Homo sapiens: one gene and its partners. The protein of the gene in region 1 interacts with the protein of each later gene in a biochemical or structural test. Each region holds a gene or a part of one and is shown in the gene's direction. Other genes may lie near its edges.

What was found. The genes of interacting proteins can lie anywhere in the genome.
Region 2: the proteins of RAB11B (region 1) and PRKG2 are reported together in a solved structure, tested with the Homo sapiens proteins (one study listed by BioGRID).
Region 3: the proteins of RAB11B (region 1) and EVI5 interact in a biophysical measurement, tested with the Homo sapiens proteins (one study listed by IntAct).

The regions. Positions count from the first base shown.
Region 1 is NC_000019.10:8,385,236-8,393,364, forward strand, and holds the start of RAB11B (ras-related protein Rab-11B), read left to right. Parts: upstream 1-5,124; 5' UTR 5,125-5,181; coding exon 5,182-5,221; exon of another isoform or gene 5,222-5,456; intron 5,457-8,129. UniProt on the Homo sapiens protein: The small GTPases Rab are key regulators of intracellular membrane trafficking, from the formation of transport vesicles to their fusion with membranes.
Region 2 is NC_000004.12:81,086,771-81,093,288, reverse strand, and holds the end of PRKG2 (cGMP-dependent protein kinase 2), read left to right. Parts: intron 1-836; coding exon 837-903; intron 904-3,485; coding exon 3,486-3,581; 3' UTR 3,582-5,914; downstream 5,915-6,518. UniProt on the Homo sapiens protein: Crucial regulator of intestinal secretion and bone growth. Phosphorylates and activates CFTR on the plasma membrane. Plays a key role in intestinal secretion by regulating cGMP-dependent translocation of CFTR in jejunum.
Region 3 is NC_000001.11:92,782,005-92,789,717, reverse strand, and holds the start of EVI5 (ecotropic viral integration site 5 protein homolog), read left to right. Parts: upstream 1-4,609; 5' UTR 4,610-4,882; exon of another isoform or gene 4,883-5,422; coding exon of another isoform or gene 5,423-5,464; intron 5,465-7,713. UniProt on the Homo sapiens protein: Functions as a regulator of cell cycle progression by stabilizing the FBXO5 protein and promoting cyclin-A accumulation during interphase. May play a role in cytokinesis.

The DNA.
Region 1 (8,129 bases):
CTAAATCTTAATTAATTACCATACAAAGGTCTGACCAGATCTAGGAGGAACTCCCTTCAGGACAGGATGATAGATGGTTCCTCCCAGGCGATTAAGGGAAAAAGACACAATGGGTATTCAGTAAGTGATAAGGAAACTCTTGTAGATGCAGAGTTAGGAAAATTGCCTAATAATTGGTCTGCTCAAACATGCCAGTTGTTTCCACTCAGCCAAATCTTAAAGTACTTACAGAATCAGGAAGCAGCCATCTATACCAATTCTAAGTTAATATGGACTGAACAAGGTCTTACTAATAGCAAAGAATAATTGAAATCCCAAACTTACAAGGTTTTCAACAAAAGTAAAGTTTGCTAAAAAAGTTAACAGTGTAACATGTATTATCCTAACTTCTAATCTTATGGAAATCAGACCGTATCTGTGCCCCTCAAAGCTCAAGTCTATCAGCGCAGGGCCATACAACTAATATCCCTACTTATAGGGTTAGGAATGGCTACTGCTACAGGAACCGGAATAGCCAGTTTATCCACTTCATTATTCTACTACCATACACCTTCAAAGGATTTCTCAGACAGTTTGTAAGAAATAACAAAATCTATCCTTACTCTACAATCCCAAATATACTCTTTGGCAGCAGCAACTCTCCAAAACCACTGAGGCCTAGACCTCCTCACTGCTGAGAAAGGAGGACTCTGCACCTTCTTAGGGGAAGAGTGTTGTTTTTACACTAAACAGTCAGGGATAGCACGAGATGCCACCTGGCATTTACAGGAAAAGGCTTCTGAAATCAGACAATGCCTTTCGAACTCTAATACCAACCTCTGGAGTTGGGCAACATGGCTTCTCCCCTAGGTCCTGTGGCAGCCATCTTGCTCTTACTCACCTTTGGGCCCTGCATTTTTAACCTTCTTGTCAAATTTGTTTCTTCTAGAATCGAGGCCATCAAGCTACAGATGGTCTTAAAAATGGAACCCCAAATGAGTTCAACTAACAACTTCTACTGAGGACCCCTGGACCGACCCACTGGCCCTTCCACTGGCCTAAAGAGTTCCCCTCTGGAGGACACTACAATTGCAGGGCCCCTTCTTCCAGCAGGAAGTAGCTAGAGTGGTCATCGGCCAAATTCCCAACAGCAGTTGGGGTGTTCTGTTTAGAGGGGTGATTGAGAGGTGAAGCCGGCTGGGCTTCTTGGTTGAGTAGGGACTTGGAGAACTTTTCTGTCTAGCTAAAGGATTGCAAATGCACCAATCAGCGCTCTGTGTCTAGCTAAAGGTTTGTAAATGCACCAATCAGCGCTCTGTGTCTAACTAATCGCGTAGGGGACTTAGAGAACTTTCCTGTCTAGCTAAAGGATTGTAAATGCACCAATCAGCACTCTGTGTCTAGCTAAAGGTTTGTAAATGCACCAATCAGCACTCTGTCAAAACGGACCAATCAGCACTCTGTAAAACGGACCAATCAGCACTCTGTAAAGTGGACCAATCAGCTCTCTGTAAAATGGACCAATCAGCAGGATGTAGGTGGGGCCAAATAAGGGAATAAAAGCAGGACACCGCAGCCAGCAGCGGCAACGTGCTTGGGTCCCCTTCCATGCTGTGGAAACTTTGTTCTTTCACTCTTCCCAGTAAATCCTGCTGCTGCTCACTCTTTGGGTGCGCACTGCCTTTATGAGCTGTAACACTCACCGCAAAGGTCTGCAGTTTCACTCCTGAAGTCAGCGAGACCAAAAGCCCACCAGAAGCAAGAAACTCTAGACATGTCTGAATATCAGAAGGAACAAACTCTGGACACACCATCTTTCAGAACCGTAACACTCACCGGAGGGTCTGTGGCTTCATTCTTGGAGTCAGCAAGACCAAGAACCCACCAATCTGGACACAGGATGTGTTATACAAAACTTATAGGAGGCTATTACTTTGGACTGACTTCCTACACCAGGCCCAACAAACTAAACCAAAATGGAGTCACTCATGCTAAAGTTTTACGTGATCAAAAAGAAACTAAGTTGTTTATCTGACCTTCTACAAAATCAGGAGAGAGAGAGATGGGATAGCCAAGTCTCCCACCAGGTCAGTTTTAGCCATCATGATAAGGATGTCCTCTCTGCTTTAACCTTTACAAGAAAAGTAACTTTGGGCTGAGTGCGGTGGTGGCTCATGCCTGTAATCCCAGCACTTTGGGAGGCCAAGGCAGGAGGATTGCTTGAGTTCAGGAGTTCAAATCCAGCCTGGCCAACAAGGCAAGACCCTGTCTCTGGAAAAAAAAAATTAGCTGGGCATGGTGGCACACACCTGTGATCCTAGCTCCTCAGGAGGCTGAGGTGGGAAGATTGCTTGATCCCAGGAAGTTGAGGTTGCAGTGAGCTATGATCGCACCACTGCACTCCAGCCTGGGTGACAGAGCAAGACTCAGACTCCAAAAGGAAACTTTAAAATGACCAATCCAAGTTTTCTTTTCTTTTTTTCTTTTTTTTTGAGTCGGAGTTTTGCTCTGCTCTCCCAGGCTGGAGTGCAATGGTGTGATCTTCGCTCACTGCAACCTCCGCCTCCCTGGTTCAAGTGATTCTCCTGCCTCAACCTCCTGAGTAGCTGGGATTACAGGCACCTGCCACCGCGCCCGGCTAATATTTTTGTATTGTTAGTAGAGATAGGGTTTCATCATCATTATCATGTTGGTCAAGCTGGTCTCGAACTCCTGACCTCGGGTGATCTGCCTGCCTCGGCCTCCAAAGTGCTGGGATTACAGGCATGAGCCACTGCACCTGACCTCCACGTTTTATTTTCTGTTTGTGCTTTACTTGGCCCTTTTTCTGCCTGTAAAACCAACCTACCTGCTCAGCTCATGGGAAAATTAGTTTCATTTTGTGAAATGAAGTGTTGCCCGATTGTAGAATTGCAAATAAAATCAATTAAGATCTTTAAACTAAATGTGTTGTAATTTTGTTTTTTTGACAGATGCCCAATGAACACCCTGGGAATGAGATCCAAGAGGCGATAATGGCATCTGCTCTAATAACTAGTACATTGACTCTAGGCTTAGATTATTCACCACTGAATAAATAAACGTATTTATTCAGCAGTGGGGAACTTACAGCAATGATGGGGACAGATACAGTCCCTGATGTCATCAGGCTGATATGCTGCTGACAGAGGACAAAAAACAAACAGATCAATGGGTCAGGAAAGCAAGGCTTTTTTTTTTTTGAGACAGGGTCTTGCTCTGTTACCCAAGCTGGAGTGCAGTGGGGTGATCATGGCTCACTGCAGCCTCGATTTCCCAGGCTCGAATGATCCTCCCGCCTTGGCCTCCCAAGTATCTGGGACCCTGGCATGATGCACCACATCTGGCTAATTTTTGTTGTTGTTCTTTTCTTTTTTTTCCTTTTCTCTTTTTTTTCCTTTTTTTCTTTTTTTTTTTTTTTTTTTGAGAGACTGGGTTTTGACATGTTGCCTAGGCTGGTCTCTAGCTCCTGGCCTCAAGTGATCCTCCCACCTCAGCCTCCTCAAAGGGCATGTTTTTAGGCATAAGCCACCGCAGCCAGCCAAAACAAACAAACAAAAAGTAACGTATACTTTGTGTTAATAATTTTGCATAGTATATTGAAAATTTGCCAAGAAAGTACATTTTAGATACTCTCACTACACACACAGTTAATTATGGAAGGCAATGGATAGGTTAATTGCTTAACTCTCATAATTGGCCATGTGTGGTGAAAATGCCTGTAATCCCAGCACTTTGGGAGGCCAAGGTGGGCGAATCACCTGAGGTCAGGAGTTCGAGATCAGCCTGACCAACATGGAGAAACCCCGTCTCTACTAAAAATACAAAAAAATTAGCCAAGCATGGTGGTGCATGCCTGTAATCCCAGCTATTCGGGAGGCTGAGGCATGAGAATCGCTTGAACCCGGGAGGCAGAGGCTGCAGTGAGCCGAGAGCACACCATTGCACTTCAGCCTGGGCAACGACAGCAAAACTCCGTCTCAAAAAAAAAAAAAAAAACTGTCATAATTATTATTTCACTGGGTACATGTGTATCAAAACACACGCTGTACACCCTAAATATATAAAACAAACACATACTGTATTGTCAGGTAGTGATAAATCCTATCACTACCTGACAATACAGCAGTATGTGTTTTATTTTCTATATTACCTATTTTTATATTTTACCTATGTGGCAAAATATAGGACAAAAGAGGGGTAGTGGTAGGAGGTCCTGTTGGAGAGCATTGGTATCCAGTAAGGATTTAAAAGTATTTATTTAACAAAGAATAGCAGAAAGTGGACGGTTGATTCACACTTGGTGCAATCTCGGCTCACTGCAACCTCCACCTCCCAGGTTCAAGCGATTCTCCTGCCTCAACCTCCTGAGTAGCTGGGTTTACAGGCACCAGCGACCACGCCCGACTAATTTTTGTATTTTTAGTAGAAACGGGGTTTCACCATGTTGGTCAGGCTGGTCTCGAACTCCTGACCTCGTGATCCGCCAGCCTCGGCCTCCCAAAGTCCTGGAATTACAGGCGTGAGCCACCGCGCCTGGCTGATCTGGTTATTTTCAAAAGATTCCATGAGACGGGTTTCTTCAGTTTACAGAGGAGGAAACTGAGGCACAGAAGGATAACCCAGTGAGTCCCAATATAGAGATGGAGACTGCAACCGAGAAAGGGGACCCAGCGCTGAGGTCCCCGGAAATGGTCATTTATGGGCTTGGGGGGCGACCAGGGCAGCGCGCGCTGACCTATGACGTCATCGGGACGTTAAGCATCGTAGCATTACCTGGACGTAGCCCCATTTCTCTTCCCGGACAGGTCCTCTGATAGTCGGGTAGGTTCTCAATCAAGCCTCTCATTAGTTATTTGGTCTGTCAATCCATTTCATTCCTGCAGTCTTCCGCCCCGCCCTCTTGAGCTCGCCCCTGATAGGCTGGCGCGTCCGTCACTTCAAAAAGGTCCGCATTCCTTCCGCCTTTCTCCAGGACACCGAGGGCGAGGAGGGTGGTACCAAGCGGCGCCCACCCTCAGAGCACTACTTCCATCTCTGATTGGCTTCGCTGGGTGCCCGTCGCTACTCCACTCGCCGCTGATAGGCCATTCAACCGCCGCTCTGCGCGGCGCCGGCTCCGCCCCCGTCGGGTGTTTGTGGTGGGGCTGCGGAGTCGCCGATCCCGCCGGAAGCGCCAGGACAATGGGGACCCGGGACGACGAGTACGACTACCTATTCAAAGGTGCGGCCGGTGGGGCACAGACGGGCGAAGTCGTGGCGGCGAGGCGGCGGGCAGACGGGCCAAGGCCGCGCTCCAGGCCGCTGGGCCCAGGCCGGAGCCCGGGGCTTGGGGCCCGGCGGGTCAGGCAGCCGGGAAGGCCGGAGCCGACCGGGCAGCATCAGCTTCGGGCTAGGATGCGCGGCTATACGGAGCCGGAGGCCCGGAGAGACCTGGGGGACCTAGGACGCGCCGGGGCGGGGCCAGAGCCTAGAGGGGGTGGGGCCCGGAGCGGTGGGAGAGGCTGTTAGGGCGGGGCCTCCGCAGGGGGTGGAGCTTTCCCAAGATTTGGCGGGCCGGGCTGGGCTGAAAGCGTGATTCGGGATGGGGGCGGGGTTTTTAGGGGCGGGGCTAAGGCGTGATGGGCGTGACCAATAGGTGGGTTGGGCCTGGGCAAACGGAGGCGGGGCTCTCACGAGGCTTGTCCTGATTGGGGCAGCGTGTTTGGGGGTGGGGCCCGGGAGAGGCGGGGCAGGCAATGGGGGCTGGGCCGAGATGAGGGCCTGGGGGTGAGGTGTGTGGTGGTGGGAGCCTTGGATTGGGGTGCAAAGCTGGGATTGAGTGGAAAGGCACCCGTGTGTGCAGCAAGAATTCCATCTCTTCACTCAGAACTCTCAACAGTGCTAAGCCAGTACTTGCACTTTTCTGAGCACTTTACCCGAATTAACTAAAATCCTCACTGCAGCCCTTTGAGGTTGATACTAACCAGCCTCTCTTTTTACACGTTGGGAAACTGAGGCCCAGAGTGACAAAGACACAGTTTATAAGTGTTGGAACCCGATTGAGCCCAGGCCACCTGTAGGCCTTACCACTTAGGAAGCGTGTCTTAGGGGGCTTGTGGCCAGCATCTGGGACTTTGGGTTGTTGGACCAACTTCTTCCAACACGTGCGCACTGATGGCCGGGGCCCCAGCCAGCCTGCTGGAGGGTCTTCCCCGCCCGAGGGACTGAGGGGGCTCTAGGAGCATCACATAAGGCCTAGGTAGATCAGGCAGCCATTGCCCATTTAGGGACAGCTGGAGGAAGCCGGAGTCCCTTGTTTCTCAGCTGAGCCTTCTGTGCCCAGCTACACTTTGGCCTAGTGGTCTGCCCTGGTTGCTGGGCTCCCTGGCTGACAATGGCAGCCCTTGAGGGCTAACCCCTGGATCCAAGGTGCCTTCACCCTGCGGCCTGCTCTATGAGGGCCTGCGTCGCACATCAGCTGTTGGTATCCTCACCTCGCTGAGCCGTTCCTCCGAGTGTGCTCTGTGGCTTGCACCAGGCCTAGCTGGGCCTTGTGTCTGGTCTCATCCAGCGTCTTCTGATTGTGGGGAATGAGGCAGAGGTCTCCCCACCTGGGCTGTCCGTGTGGCGAAAGCCTTCCGGGGGGAGGGAGAGGAAGTGCCTCTACAAGGGCCTAGAGTCGTCCTGTGGCACTGAGGGCTCTGGCAGCTGCACACAGGTTGATAATGTCACTGGTGGGTGAGGCTCTGTGGTCAGCAGGTGCCCGGCCCAAGGTCTCGCCCCTCGTGGCAGGAGGAAGCTTTGGAAGGGTTTTGGAGACTGGGATTCTAAGGGGCCGTCTGGAGACAGGGGGACTAAACTTTGGGTCCTGCTGATCGGGTGCCATCTCCACTCAGCCCACCGTGAGGCAGCTGCTCCCAGGTCCTGGCTGGGCACCCACCCAGACGTGGCACTGCCAGGGCAGGGGTGTTGCTCCCCACATGCCCCATCCAGGTTTCTGTGGTTATCCCCTGCTTGTTATTTTTGCCCTTTTGCTGTGTTAAATGACCCAGCTCCGAGTGCTTGCTCAAGTCATGGTTTTGCCCTTTAGATTATTTCCTTGAAGTGCGTTCCCAGCAGAACAGTTACTGGGTCAGGAGCAATGGAGAGGCTGTGTGGTTCCCGGGACTTGTCTGCAGAGACTGCTTCCTGGAAACACTGATTTAGCTTCTGCGGCATCTGGCATTTGGCGGGCAGGCGGTGTGGGGTGGGGGGGGGCGGTGCCTGCCCTGCTGCCCTCCCCACACTGGCCTCCTTTTACTGAGTCTAGCAGGTGCCCTGCTGACCTTCTCAAGCTAGTTGGTAGCAAAAATCTAACCCACAAGTTCAGCTTTTCCCAAACTGGTCATCTGCCGTCTCACCTTCACAGCTGTGCCTCATCAGAGGACCTCCTCTATTCTCTTTCAATATTTTTCTTTTCCTTTTTCTTTTCTTTTTTTTTTTTTTTTTTTTTTGAGACAGAATTTTACTCTAGTCACCCAGCCTGGAGTGCAGTGGCGCAATCTCGGCTCACTGCAGCCTCCGTCTCCCGGGTTCAAACGATTCTCCTGCCTCAGCCTCCCGAGTAGCTGGGATTACAAGCACCCACCACACCCGGCTAATTTTTGTATTTTAGTAGATACGGGGTTTCACCATGTTGGCCAGCTGATCTTGAACTCCTGACCTCAGGTGATCCACCTGTCTCGGCCTCCCAAAGTGCTGGGATTACAGGCATGAGCCACCGTGCCTGGCCTCTGCATTTTTTTTTTTTTTTTTGGTGGCCACATCACGCACTGGCTCCCTTGACTTCAGCGGCCAAGGCCAGCAGATCCCCCGGGTGATGCCCCGTGTGCCATTTGTTTTCCTTCGTGAATGTTCTTTCCTTCCCCCAGGAATGACACTGTTGATTTGTACCTAATTATAGAGCCTCACATTTATCCTCCTAACATTTTCTCCTTTAGCCATGGGCCATTTTCATAGCCTGCCACTAATTGCCGTGGGACCCCAGATTTCTTTTCTGATGGACTCGGTACTCCATGGTTGCAGCTGTGTCCCCAAGGGCCACTGAGGTCCTCTCAGAGCCCTTCCCCTACCCTAGAGGCCCTGGCCAATCAGGGCTCACCTGGCCCTGG
Region 2 (6,518 bases), on another chromosome or scaffold:
CATGAAGGTGTTGAGAGAATAAGACATGGAAATCTAGAGAAAGAACAATCCAGCCTTGAGTACAAAGGCCTTAAAGTGGGAACAACCCTAGTTGGTTAGGAGAATAGTGAGAAGATAAATGAGTTAAGGGAGAAAGAAAGAGAAAAGTAATACAGTGGTAAGGTAATGGAAGGATGGTGGTAGAAACAATGATTCTATAAAGCCTTATAGGTTACAGCAAAGACATGGAACAGACTTTGCCTTTTACACTGAGTAAGATGGAAAAGGTGGGGAAGTATTGAACCGAGGCATGTTGTGACCTGACTTATGCTATAAACGACCAGTCTTGCTGCTAAGTTATCTCCAGCACAAAAGTACGGCTGGTTCCTTGCTAGTAGAGTGAAGGTATTGAAGACTGGCCAGATACTGAATATAGATAGAATGTGAAGCTAGCACTGACAGGATTTGATCATGGACTCAGATAGGATATAAGGCAAAGAACAACTACAAGAGCTTTGGTTTGAGCAACTGGAAGAATTGAGATGAGGTTGGTGGAGAACATTTTAAGCTTCTGTTCAGACATGATACATGCCAGATGCCTATTAGACATCTAATAGTGAGAAGATGAATAAGAATTGTAGACCTTAGCCTGTAAGCTGATGGAGGGGTCTTGGTTGGAAATAGAAATTTGGGAATAATTAGCATATAAGTGCTATTTAAAGCCATGACAGATAACTTGACATGCTAATAGTTTATCATCCAAGTAATATTCCTTTTTGTCGTCTCTTTCTTTCTCCCTTCCTTCCTTCCTTCCTTCCTTCCTTCCTTCCTTCCTTCCTTCCTTTCTCATTTCTCAGGTGGTTAAATGGTTTTAATTGGGAGGGACTGAAAGCACGGAGCCTTCCATCACCTTTGCAAAGAGAGGTATTGTATTTATTATATTACTTTTTTATTTTTTTCCCAGGGATTTGTTTTTGTACACAGATTTTAGATGTGTGTATGTATATGCCCATAACAGATTTTGGGTGTTTTTTTTTAAAGCAGTTTTTATTTTAATTTAAGTGAGTTTGTCTTATAATTGTGATTATAGGGACTAAATAGTACTGCCTAGCTGATGGATATTAACTTACCTGTCAAGAACCAAATACATGTCAGTGCCACTTAAGTCCCAAAGTAGTCAGTGTTGTTCAGGCTGACAAATGACTGTATAAATTTGATGTGAACAATGTATGTAACTTAAGATTTTCTAATAGCCATTTTAAAAAGGTGAAAAAAAAGGTGAAAATAATTTTAATTATCATAATACCTCCAAAATATTATTTCAATATGTAATCAATATAAAATATTAGTGAGATAGGTTATGTTTATTTTTCCATAATAAATTTTCTAAATCCCAAGTGAATTTTACTGTTACAGCACATCTCAGTTCAGAAGAGCGACATTTCAAGTGCTCAGTCACTTCGTGTTGCTAATGGTTTTGTTATTGGATAGTGCAGCTCTAGAGGCAGCAGAACTTCAGCTAACATGGGAGGAAGAATGACTCAGGAATGATCTAGGTCAACATACTACTAAGTTTATGTTAGTGTTTTTTCCAAAAGATTGCAAAGATCTATATTTCCTCTTATACATTGGTAGATTGCTATCTGACTTTTTTTCATCAAAGTGTAGTTGTGGAGAATATGATTTCCAGTATGTTGTAAATATTGACATTTTAAAATAAAACACTAGGCCAGGCATGGTGGCTCACGCCTGTAATCCTAGCACTTTAGGAGGCCGAGGCGGGCGGATCACGAGGTCAGGAGATCGAGACCATCCTGGCTAACATGGTGAAACCCTGTCTCTACTAAAAATAAAAAAAAATTAGCCGGGCATGGTGGCGGGCACCTGTCATCCCAGCTACTCAGGAGGCTGAGGCAGGAGAATGGCGTGAACTCAGGAGGTGGAGCTTGCAGTGAGCCGAGATCACGCCACTGCACTCCAGCCTGGATGACAGAGCAAGACTCCGTCTCAAAAAATAATAATAATAATAATAATAAAAACACTACTGTTACTTCATTCCTTTAAACATGTCTACTATAATCTAAATACCATTGAGATTTAATACCTATCTGCCACTTATAAAGTTTGGGCAGAAATATTGTATCACTCCTTTTCATCATATCATCATATTTTCATTCTATGTTCCCTATAAGATTTCATCCTAATGTAAAATGCTTCTATGCTTGACAATCTTTCTTGATCATTCTTTAAATGCCTTCGAATTTTAGATTTAAAATTTGTGATAACACCAGTATTTCTTCTGAATTCTGTTATAATTACATTTTTATGGCATGCAGTGTCAAATGGCATAAATATATTATGAATATCTAATGGTAATTATTAAATAAACATTTTTTGAGAAGAAATTATTTCATGTATCTATGGATAGATATTATTTATTAGAAGAATGGGATCAGATTCAGCATCAATTCTATTCCTTTTTAAAATGATTGTTATGCAGATACAAATTCTAAGAATTGTGTTCTCACATATATAAGTGGGAATGGAAGGTTTTATTACAGCGATGTCACTTTGAGCTCCTTCTGAATGATCTCTAGCTCTGTTCCTCCACCACATTATGATCTATCATAAATAATATTTTTAATGATTTTTCAGCTGATCATTCAGTTAGGCATTACTTACATTTGTTTGAAAGCAGAGTTAGAAATCATTTTATTTGTGAAATAATTTAATACCAGCATAATTTCACTCTCTCAACAGGGTCACTAATATTTTGAATTGTTCCTTTTTTGGCATTCTGAATACTTTATATGGATCAATTAACCATAAAAATTTCAGGATTGGTGAGAAACTTATATAATGGAAGAAGAACGCTAGCAGATTTTGATTTTAAAAGAGTTTTCAATTAAAAAAATAAATAGACATCATTTCTGTCACTTATTTTTTTTTTTTGAGAGAAAGTCTCACTCTGTTACCCAGGCTGGAGTGCAGTGGTGTGATCTCAGCTCACTGCAACCTTCACCTCTCAGGTTCAAGTGATTCTCCTGCCTCAGCCTCCAAAGTAGATGGGATCACAGGTGTGTGCCACCATGCCAAACTAATTTTTGTATTTTTAATAGAGATGGAGTTTCACCACATTGGCCAGGCTGGTCTCGAACTCCTGACTTCAGGTGATCTGCTTGTCTTGGCCTCCCAAAGTGCTGGGATTACAGGCGTGAGCCACAGCGCCTGGCCTATTTCTGAACTTTTTCTTTAGGAAAACTCTTCATGCCAGGTAGTTACTATTGAATGTTATCTGGTGACCAAATCTATTTGGTTGTAAAGAGAAGATCTCATGAGGCTGAGACTAGGACTCAAGAATGATAATTGGTCATTTTTTTCTTGTATGTAACTTCCAAGTGGCTGCAGTATGAAATCAGTGTTCTGAAATAAAAAACATTACCCATATGTGATAGCATGCTTGGTCAACATTATTCTTCCTTTTGTTTTAATTATTTCTATATTAGCTCAAGGGACCCATAGATCACAGCTACTTTGACAAATATCCTCCTGAAAAGGGAATGCCTCCAGATGAGCTATCAGGCTGGGATAAAGACTTCTGACAGAAGAAAAGTTGATTACTGCCTGTACTCTACAGAAGAGGACCTCAAGGATCAATAATCCAACACATTATTTTCTTTTCAGAGTATTATAATATCTTTGGAAGACCATTAGGGAAAAGAAATTCCTGCACAATGGGAAGAGGAGAATGGTGTGGATATGGTTCTGAGTTATAGTGTCTTATTTAGATGCTGTGAATTATTGATGTATTACATTATTTGCTTTTCTCAACTGCTAGAGGCTACCCCATTTTCCTTTCCACAATCAGAGCCATTTTTGTTAAAGTGGCAGTTTTTTCTGCAATCTATTGTTCCATTCCAATCATATCCTTCTCGTTTGAGTACTACTAACGTTTAAAAAGGGTCTTGCCCTTGAATAACTAAGTCATACAAATAGAAGGAAAAACAATGGTGAATTTTGGAGAGCTCCCCAGCTCTCAGCAACTTCATATAAGCATGGTGGTATCTTAAAATGGTGGTTTGCAGAAACCATGGTAGCCAACAGAACCTCCTGACTTTCACCTGCTTTTAACCTGAAAATATATTAATACGCCTCTGACATGAGTCCAGGGAGAGGCAAGATTGAGCAATAGTCAGTGGCACCATTTCCTAAAGTAACTGAATCAATCAATCCAGTCAGGTAATTATTTTCTATTGGGGAACTTAGAAAAAAAAGTAAAGCAAGAAATATTTTCTCTCCTTTATGATCAGTGATACCTTAGAGACTTTTCGAAAGTCCTTGTTAAAGATAGTTACAATGTGTGGTTAAATGATGCTAAAATATTTTCACAACCAGAGTAGAAAACGTGCTGGAACAAAATTGCGAAGGCTTTTGCCTCCCAGTAAATAGAAAGGAAAATATATTCTAGTAGGTAAGACTGCTGACTCTTTGAAAATCTGAGGTATTTTGAAAAATTCTGTGATAGTTGCTATTAATAAACCAAAATTGTATAGAATCATCGTTAATTTTTAATATAAATCCCATTGACAAATGTTGATGCACTGTAGTCACTGCTGAGTTAATAGCGCTTTTTAAAGACATCTGAGTCATGGATGTGTTTATAAATTTAGATTGTTAAGACAGGCAAGCCACCAGAAAAGTGATAGGATTTCAGAAGTAAAAGGGACAACAGCATCCCTCCTATCCCTTCCTTGCACTCTCCCAAATAATAAGTAGGATAGTTTCAATAGCATGGGACCTAGTACCTAAGAACTTCACTGGTGAATGGTTGTATGTATTGACCATGATCATTCCCTTACCCTCCTTCCAAAATGAATGAGAAGCAGAGACTTTTCTGTATTTTTTAAATCTAGCAGAGTAAAAATACTGTATAAGTTCCGGGATTATTCAAGCTTCTGGTTATATTTTCATATGTTAATGTTCTATGTCAAAAGGAACCTCTACCCAGTCCCCACTCATAATTTCATCATCCAGAAAAAAGCCAGCTATATGCTTCCTTAATGAGTTAAGCTAGATAAGTGAAGCCCAATCCAGAAAGGTGCATCCTTAACAAATTAGATTTCCACATTTATAATCCTTTTGCTGAACCAAAGAGTTTTTGTTTCCTGGAGCTGTATTTTTAAAGATTATGTATTGTACATAGAATAATCATTTTTAATAGGATTGACATAACCTGCTTAAAGAATTTCTAAGAGTTTTTAAAGATTTTTATTTGAATTTGGTTGGTTTGTACTGTATGTTTTTCCATGTATATATTTTTAAATTTCCAACCTATAAAGATAGAAAATTTATGTATTGGGTGGATATTAGAACTATACAGTTATAATAGGAATGATATTCTCAAAGCAGATCAATAGTTGTAATTTTTAAAACCCTACATATATAGAAATAACCAAGTTAGAGTACTACAGGTTTATTTTTCCTGTGATTGACCATGTCAATGTGTTATCCTCCCATGTGATTTTTTATTGTTTCCTTAGAGTACTTTAAAAGATGAAGAAATGAGAGACTGAACCATTGAATAATCCCAACTCCACCATTTCCTAACTGAGTGACTCTGGGAAAGTGATTTAGCTTTTTTGAGTACTAGCTTTCTCATTCATAGAAAAAGGCAGAGTAAAGTAATATTTACTTAGAGGTTTGTTTCAGGGATTAAGTTATGTAGAGAGTCTTTTGCCCGGTATCTGTGAAATAACCATTGCTGCATAGACGGGAGCTACTGTTACTGTCTCTATTAAAATTAAAGGGGCCTTAATAACCATTTAGTCCTGAATCTTATGTATCATTGGTATCTGTATGCAGAATTGTACTTATCAAATCCAGTATCTGTCTTTTTTTTCTTTTAAATCATGAAGTAAAAATGATTGACCAAAAACTTCGGTGTATGAGATGAAGGGTTAACCTTCACTAAAGTGAAGTGCTTCGTTAAGTTAACCTAAATTTTAATTTTTATGAATTAAAGATACACACATACAGGGAAATATGGAAAATTACCCTCATATATGCATACCTATCATTTTCCTAATCATTAAATCATTCCCAATCTCTCTAGTTAGGATGTAAACTTAATTTTTCATCCTTGAGCTTCTTCCAAGTGGGACCAACTTTTCATAATTATAGGTTCTTAATGCCTTCTTTAAATATAAACACATCTGAAGAAAAGACAGTGTAGTAGTGAAAAGTAAGAGATTTAGAGAAGAACAAGAAAAAAAAAAAACCTGGGCTTGAATTCCAGCTCTGCCCAGATTTGTGTAACCTTGAACATTAAACCTCAGCTTTACTCTTCTGGAACTTGGAGATATACATTTAAAGCTTTGAAATCTTGCGCCAGAATATTATTACTAGTAGGTCATTCGTAATAAACATTTGAAAATAAGTATATATCTATATTTCTTTGGGCACAATAACAAATCCTTGTTCTTTATTGCTAGGCATTGTACTAGGAGTATTTATATCTATTAAGTCATTCACACAAGATA
Region 3 (7,713 bases), on another chromosome or scaffold:
TTTAGAGGGGTTCCCCTCCCAGACAGTGACCCAAATCAATGCTAAGGCTGTACAGTATCAGAACATAGAAAACTTTGAATTGCTCACTGAATTTACCGCAAATAAAACTATCTGAAGGCCAGGCGCGGTGGTTCATGCCTGTAATCTCAGCACTTTGGGAGGCTGAGGTGGGCGGATCACAAGGTCAGGAGATTGAGACCGTCCTGGCTAACATGGTGAAACCCCGTTTCTACTAAAAATACAAAAAATTAGCCAGGTGTGGTGGCAGGCGCCTGTAGTCCCAGCTGCTCGGGAGGCTGAGGCAGGAGAATGGCGTGAACCCAGGAGGCAGAGCTTGCAGTGAGTCAAGATCTTGCCACTGCACTCCAGCCTGGGCGACGGAGCGAGAAAAAAAAAAGAAGAAGAAGCTGAGGCAGGAGGATGGCTTGAATTCAGGAGTCCAAGTCCAGCCTGAGCAACATAGTGAGACCCAGTCTTTTAAATTAATAAAATAAAATGAAACCACAAACCTCAAACAAACAAAAAGACAAAACAGGATTTCAATCATTGTGAAGCTCTCGATCTAGTAGATGAGTAATGTATATAAACCAAAATATTACAATTTCAGAGAAGTGCTACAGGGCCTAATGTTTAACCACTTCTGGCATTCAACTGACTGTGTTAAAAACTCTGCCACCACTTTCCAGGGGTATAAATTGAGGTAAGTTATTTGGTATTTATTAAATTTCAGCTTCTTCATATGCAAGGGGGTTATGATAATAATACCTACCCCATGAGGACAATATGAGGATTAAACGAAATAGTGTATGTATACAGCCTTAGCCAATACCCATACATGTTGAGTGCTCAACCAGGTGTTAGCTATTAGATTTTAAAATTTTATTTAATTTTTATGGGGTTTTTTTTGTTGTTGTTGTTGCTGTTGAGACAGAGTCTTGCTCTGTTGCCCAGGCTGGAGAGCAGTGGCGCGATCTCGGCTCACTGCAAGCTCCACCTCTTGGGTTCAAGCAGTTCTCCTGCCTCAGCCTCCCGAGCAGCTGGGACTACAGGCACACACCACCACGCCCAGCTAATTTCTGTATTTTTAGTAGAGATGGGGTTTCACCATGTTGGCCAGGTTGGTCTTGAACTCCCGACCTTGTGATCCACCACCTCGGCCTCCCAAAGTGCTGGGATTACAGGCATGAGCCATCATGTCCTGCCTAGTTTTTTTTTTGTTTTGTTTTGTTTTGTTTTGTTTTTGAGATGGAGTCTCTCACTCTGTCACCTAGGCTGGAGTGCAATGGTGCAATCTCGGCTCACTGCAACCTCCGCCCCCCGGGTTCAAGTGATTCTCCTGTCTCAGTCTCCCGAGTAGCTGAGATTACAGGCACACGCCACCATGCCCGGCTAATTTTTTTTTTGTATTTCAGTAGAGATGGGGTTTCACTGTGTTGTCCAGGCTGGTCTTGAACTCTTCCGCTCGGGCAATCCACCCACCTTGGCCTCCCAAAGTGCTAGGATTACAGGTGTGAGCCACTACGCCCGGCCACTATTTTTTATAGTTTTTAAGGTAAAATTTACATTCACTGAAATGTTACCTGCATATTTTTTGATAAGTGAATATACCTATGTAACTCACATCCCTATCAAGATAGAGACCATTTTTACCACCCAGAAATTTCACTCATGTACCATCCCAGTCAATCCCCTGCCACAGGGAACCACTGTTATGATTTTTTTTCACCACAGATTAATTTTCTTTTCTAGAATTTCAAATAAATGGAACAGTATGACACTCTTTTGTGTCATTTATTTATCTTCACATAGATAATTCACATACTTTGTGTCATTTATCTTCACATAGATAATTCACATACTTTAAGATAAAAAAGGTACAATTTTAAACCTTTTGGGCATGCAGTAAAAATCTCCTTCCCACTGGTACCCACCAGTCACCCAGTCTTCCTCTCTCTTTCTCTCTCTTTTTTTTTTTTTTGAGACAAGATCTTTCTCTGTCGCCCAGGCTGGAGTGCAGTGGCACGATCATGGCTCACTTCGGCCTCACCCTTCCAGGCTCAAGCAATCCTCCTGCCTCAGGCTCCCAAGTAGCAGGACTACAGGTGCCTACCACCACACCTGTCTAAATTTTTTTTTGTATTTTTTTTTTGTAAAGATAGGGTTTTGCCATATTGCTCAGGCTAGTCTTAAACTCCTGATCTTAAATGATCCGCCGGCCTCAGCCTTCCAAAGTGTTTAGATTATAGGCGTGAGCCACCGTGCTTGGCTCAGTCTTCCTCTCTTGAAGCAATCAATGTTATTAGTTTTATGTGGGCCATCCCATGTCTTATCATTATTAATTCAGGTGCTTACAAAAGGCTCTTTGAGAACTGTTTTAAAGGTTACCCAAAGAATCTTGTGACAACCCAGCTAAAATGATATAAAATCAGTTTTAACATAACTGAAGTTTTTAGATTCTGATTCCAAATGTCAGATGGTGACATTTTACCTTTCTCTGACTTTATGCCAAATTTAGTTTAAGTTTTAGCATCTATAATTTTCATTTACTGAACAAATATATATTTAACAAATATGAAAATACAACCATGAAACAAACAAAATCAAATCCTGGACTTAAGGAGCTAATAGTAAAAAATTCACCAATATAACTACCCAATTACAGTTTCATGCGATGTGAAAGGAGTAAGAGACCACCATAGGGAGGTCAGAAGATGCTTCTCAGAGGTGGATACTAGAGCCGTTGTCAAAGGATGAGGACTGGGAGAACTTTCTGGGCACAGAGCAAAGCATGAGTAAAAGCTCTGTTGAGGCCAGGAAGCCGGTAAATAGGGAATAAAAGAGGCTAGCGTGGCTGGAGCACAGACAGCAGGGTGGAATTGGTCTGAGCAGTGAGAAGAGGTGGAGAGGTGGGCAAGGCACCTGGCCATTCAGGGCTTGGTTAGTTAGGAGGGTTTTTTCTAAGAGAATGGGAAAGTGTTTAAGTGGTTTAGGCTGGGAAGTGACAGGGTCACACTGTTATTTTGAAAAAGTCACTCTGCCTGTTGTGTTGAGATTAGAGAGGGGATAAAGGGAATATGGGTAAACCACAAGAAGACTAGGTCAGTAATCCCTCCACCCCCACTCCCCAGGTGAAGGTAGCCTAGACTAGGGTGGTGATGGAGGAAATAGGAGAGGACAGATTCAAGGACCATTTGTAAGGGAAAAACCAATAGAATTTGCTGACGGATGGAATATAAGAGGGGAGAGGTACATTATCAAGGATGTAGCTTAGTTTTCTTATACAAGGATTGAGTTGCAATAAAATTGTTAATTGAAATTTCTTTAAATAATGGCACAACCTAAAGTTATGCAAACATATGCCTCAGATAAAAGTTCAAGTTTTCAAAGTTTTTAGCTGGGTGGAGGGCATGGCTTTACTTCCTATTTCTTGGTATTTCCTAATCTTGTTGAAAAAAAAGTAAGGTTTTTTTTTTTTTTTTTTTCTGAAATGCTTAGTTCAGTGGAAACCCATCTGCGAATTCTGTCTTATAAATTTAAATTTAAAAATAGGGATACTAATTTCTAGACAAATAATTCCGGAGTTTCTTGTGCTGCTAATTATTATAATTTTTGTCCCTTTTTTTTTTTGAGACAGAGTATCGTTCTGTCGCCCAGGCTGGAGTGCAGTGGCGCGATCTTGGCTCACTGCAACCTCCACCTCCGTGGTTCAAGCAATTCCCCTGCCTCAGCCTCCAGAGTAGCTTGGCTGGGAGTACAGGCGCACGCCACGACGCCGGGCTATTTTTTTTTTTTGTATTTTTAGTAGAGACGGGGTTTCACCATGTTGGCCAGATTGGTCTCCAACTCCTGACCTCAGGCAATCCGCCCGCCTCGGCCTCCCAAAGTGTTGGGATTACAGGTGTGAGCCACCGCGCCCGGCTGTCACTTCTAAACATATAATGAAAGTAATCTGTATTGCCTTTTTACTTTTTCTTGCCTGCTTTTCCTGGACCAGAAATTAATAGGCTGTTTCCGTCCCAAACAAAGTACTTTCCTTCTAAGAATGTCTTCGTTGACGCTGGAGGGCTGCCCGGCTGAATCTTACGTATTCGTGCCCATGTTCTGCCCCCTGCAGTAGTCTGCATAAACCCAATGCGAAGACACGTGTAAGAGTACATTACAATTACAAGTGTCATTTACGCGTTGATTATTGTTTTTGCGAGTGCCCTAAGGCCACCTCTGGGGGAGCTCGGGGCTGCCTTCCGAAGCATGCGCGTCAGCACCGCGTGCCAGGGCCCTGAAAGTCAGGCTCCGCGTCGGTGCGGCAGCGCGAGGCCTGCAGTCCTAAGCTCGGGGTCGCTTCGGGCCCCCGAGGGGGTGTGTCTTCTACCGTTTTAACATGGAAGGGGCGGTTCCAGTGGCCGGGGAAGTCGGCGACTTGCAGGACTGAAGGCTGGTGCTTTGAAAGAGAGGCGGAGGGCGAGAGCGATTTCCCCGCCTCCTCTGCACTCCGTCCAATCCCTTCGCCTTCTCCTTTTCTCGGCCGGCCCGCCCGGCCCCTAACCTGCTCCAACCCATTCTGCGGTAGAGGCTGCCGGGTCTCTTTAAGGCCCTCCCGCGCCTGCGCCTTGGGCTCTCCTGACGCGGCCGGGCCGGACCCCGGAGGAACCAGCTGGCCAGCTGGCAAGGGGCTGGCTGCAGTTCCGACAGCGGCGGTGCCGGGAGGGGTAGGTGAGGGTCGCGAGGCGGCCCTGAGCTTCTGAGTGAGCGTGGTGCTTTTGGGAACTCGGGACGGGCGACCCGTGGAGCCAGGAGCGGGGCCGAGGCGCTGAGACGCGGCGGCGCGGCTGCCGGCTGGATGGGAAGTTAATGTTTACGGCGAAGTCTACTCAACGTTTCCAAGGTGAGGGGCGCTGCGCCAGGCCGGGCGGGCCGGGAGGCCGGGCGGGCGGTGAGTCCGTGTTCCGCTGGCGCACAGCTGGGCCGAGGCGCGGCGGGCGGGGGCCGCCGCAAGTTTTGCTGTGGGAGCGGGGCGGGCGCGCCTGGCCCCGCCAGGGCCTAAGTTCCCTGCACTCGCTTCCTCGCCTGTCGCCGCCGCCGCCGCCCGCAGCCCTCCTTCTCGTGGGCGCTGGGGAAGAAACTCGTCGGCGGGTCTAACTGTGGCGTCCCAGGGCGGTGGAGGGACGGAGCAGCTTCGGGGGCACGTCCTCGTAAATCCCGTGGAGGACACTGACCCTGCACCCCACCCTCGAGGCCAGAAGTCGGTTCCCTTTGGGGACCTGAGGGGCGAGAGCACTCGCCCCCCTGACTTGCAAAGTTGGCGTCTTTACTTGGCCTCCGGGATTCTGCGCATGGCGTGTCTCCAGGCTGCTGATGGGCAAGACAGATGTGCCAGGTCCAGAATGAACTTGAGAAGAGTTTGTAGCCATTCCTGAATCACCTTATGACTAGTGGGGCAAGCCTCAAATTAACCTCAGGATTTCCGGTAGGTTGGATTGTGGTGTTGGTGTTTCCACTCAAAAGAGTTGCTGTGATTTCCCTGTGTCTGTCTGTCTGTCTGTCTTTGGGGCTTCTTAGATCATCTCATTTGGCATCCTTTCACCCAAGAGTTAAACCAAGCCTTTTGGAATGGTTTCCTCGCTTTCCTCCTATCTATTGCTGGTAGAGCTGCTTTCGAAAAGAAGTATTTTCTTGAAGTGGTATCTTTTCTTTGGGTTACAGTGTTGAATAATAAACTCCTTTCTTTGCCGAAAGAATGAATTCCAGTGCTTACTGAAGTTAAAGAAAAGTGATCTGCTGGTAGTTTTTAATCTTTGTTCTGAGCTGATGTAAGTAACTTTTTTTGTTTTAAAATTTTGTTAGTAGAATTTCACCAGTGTACCAGAAGCTCTTTTTCTTTTTCTTTTCTTTTCTTTTTTTTTTTTTTTTTTGACAGGGAGTCTCGCTCTGTCGCCAGACTGGAGTGCAGTGGCGACGTTGGTTCACTGCAACCTCCACCTCCTGCGTTTAAGCAATTCTCCTGCCTCAGCCCCGCGAGTAGCTGGGACTACAGGCGCGCGCCACCACTCCCAGCTAATTTTTGTATTTTTAGTAGAGATGAGGTTTCACCATGTTGGCCACGATGGTCTTGATCTCTTGACCTCGTGTTCCACCCGCCTCAGCCTCCCAAAGTGTTGGGGTTACAGGCGTGAGCCACCGTGCCCGGCCTTCTTTTTCTTTTCTTTTCTTTTCTTTTTTTTTTTTTTTTTTTTTTTTAAGGCTGAGTCTCACTCTGTTGCCTAGGCTGGATATATTCTCCTGCCTCAGCCTCCCGAGTAGCTGGGATTACAGGCGTACATCACCACGCCCGGCTAATTTTTTTTTTTTTGTATTTTTAGTAGAAACGGGGTTTCACCGTGTTGGTCAGGCTGGTCTCGAACTCCTGACCTCAAATGATCTGCCCGCCTCGGCCTTCGAAAGTGCTGGGATTACAGGCGTGAGCCAGCGCACCTGGCCCAGGTGGTCTTTTTTCTGTTCTAAAATGATAACTACGATTTCCGAGAACTTTGTGTCAAATAAATCTTAGAACTAAGTTATTGAAGTATAGAGAAAAAGTTCACAATTCTAAATGTGCAGGTGGTCTGGGTGCGGTGGCTCACGCATGTGATCCTAGCATTTTGGGAGGCAGAGGCAGGTGGATCACTTGAGCCCAGGAGTTTGAGACCAGCCAGGGCAACGTGGCAAAACCCCATTTTCTACTAAAAATACAAAAATTAGCTGGGTGTGGTTGTGTGCGCTGGTAGTCCGAGCTACCCAGGAGGCTGAGGTGGGAGGATCACCAAAGCCGGGGAGGTCGAAGTTGCAGTGAGCCTTGATCATGCCACTGCACTCCAGCCTGAGCGGCAGAGTGAGACCGTCTTTCAAAAAAAACAAAAACAAAAAACATCGCAGGTAATGAATTTTTACTAAGTGAACCACCAAAGATCAAGAAATAGGACATTACTAGATTGGAGTATGTACGTAGGAGTGGCATTGTTGGTTTTATAGGTACGTGGGTGATAAAACTCTAGTATTAGAAATTGTTGAACATTTTCCCAAAGTGGTTCTACCAATTAGCAGGGAATGTTCCGGTTACCCCACATCCTTGCTGGTGCTTGTCAGTTGAAATTTTTTTTGCTAGTCTAGTAGAGGTACAGTAATATATCAGTGTGGTTTCATTTTGCATTTTCCTGGTACTGAGGTTGAGTATCTTTTGTTGACCATTTATATTTCCTCTTGTGAAGTGCCTGTTAAGTCTTTTTGCCCAGTTTTCGTTGATATGCTTATTTTTCTCTCATTTATAATGCTTTATTCTGGATATGAGTCCTTTCTAGGATATATATGTATTGCATTTTTATTTTTTTCAGTCTGTATTTTGCCTTTTCAGTCTTTTAATGGTGTTTTTTTTCATGCCTGGAGATTCTTAATTTGTGTGTGTGTGTGTTTTTTGTTTGTTTGTTTTGTAAGATGGAGTCTCACTCTGTTGCCAGGCTAGAGTGCAGTGGCGCGATCTCGGCTCACTGCACCCTCGCCTCCCGGGTTCAAGCAATTCTCCTGCCTCAGCCTACTGAGTAGCTGGGACTATAGGTGTGTGCCACCATGCCCGGCTAATTTTTGTATTTTTAGTAGAGACAGGGCTTCACCATGTTGGCCAGGGTGGTCTTGATTTCTTGACCTCATGATCCATCCACCTCGGCCTCCTAAAGTGCTGGGATT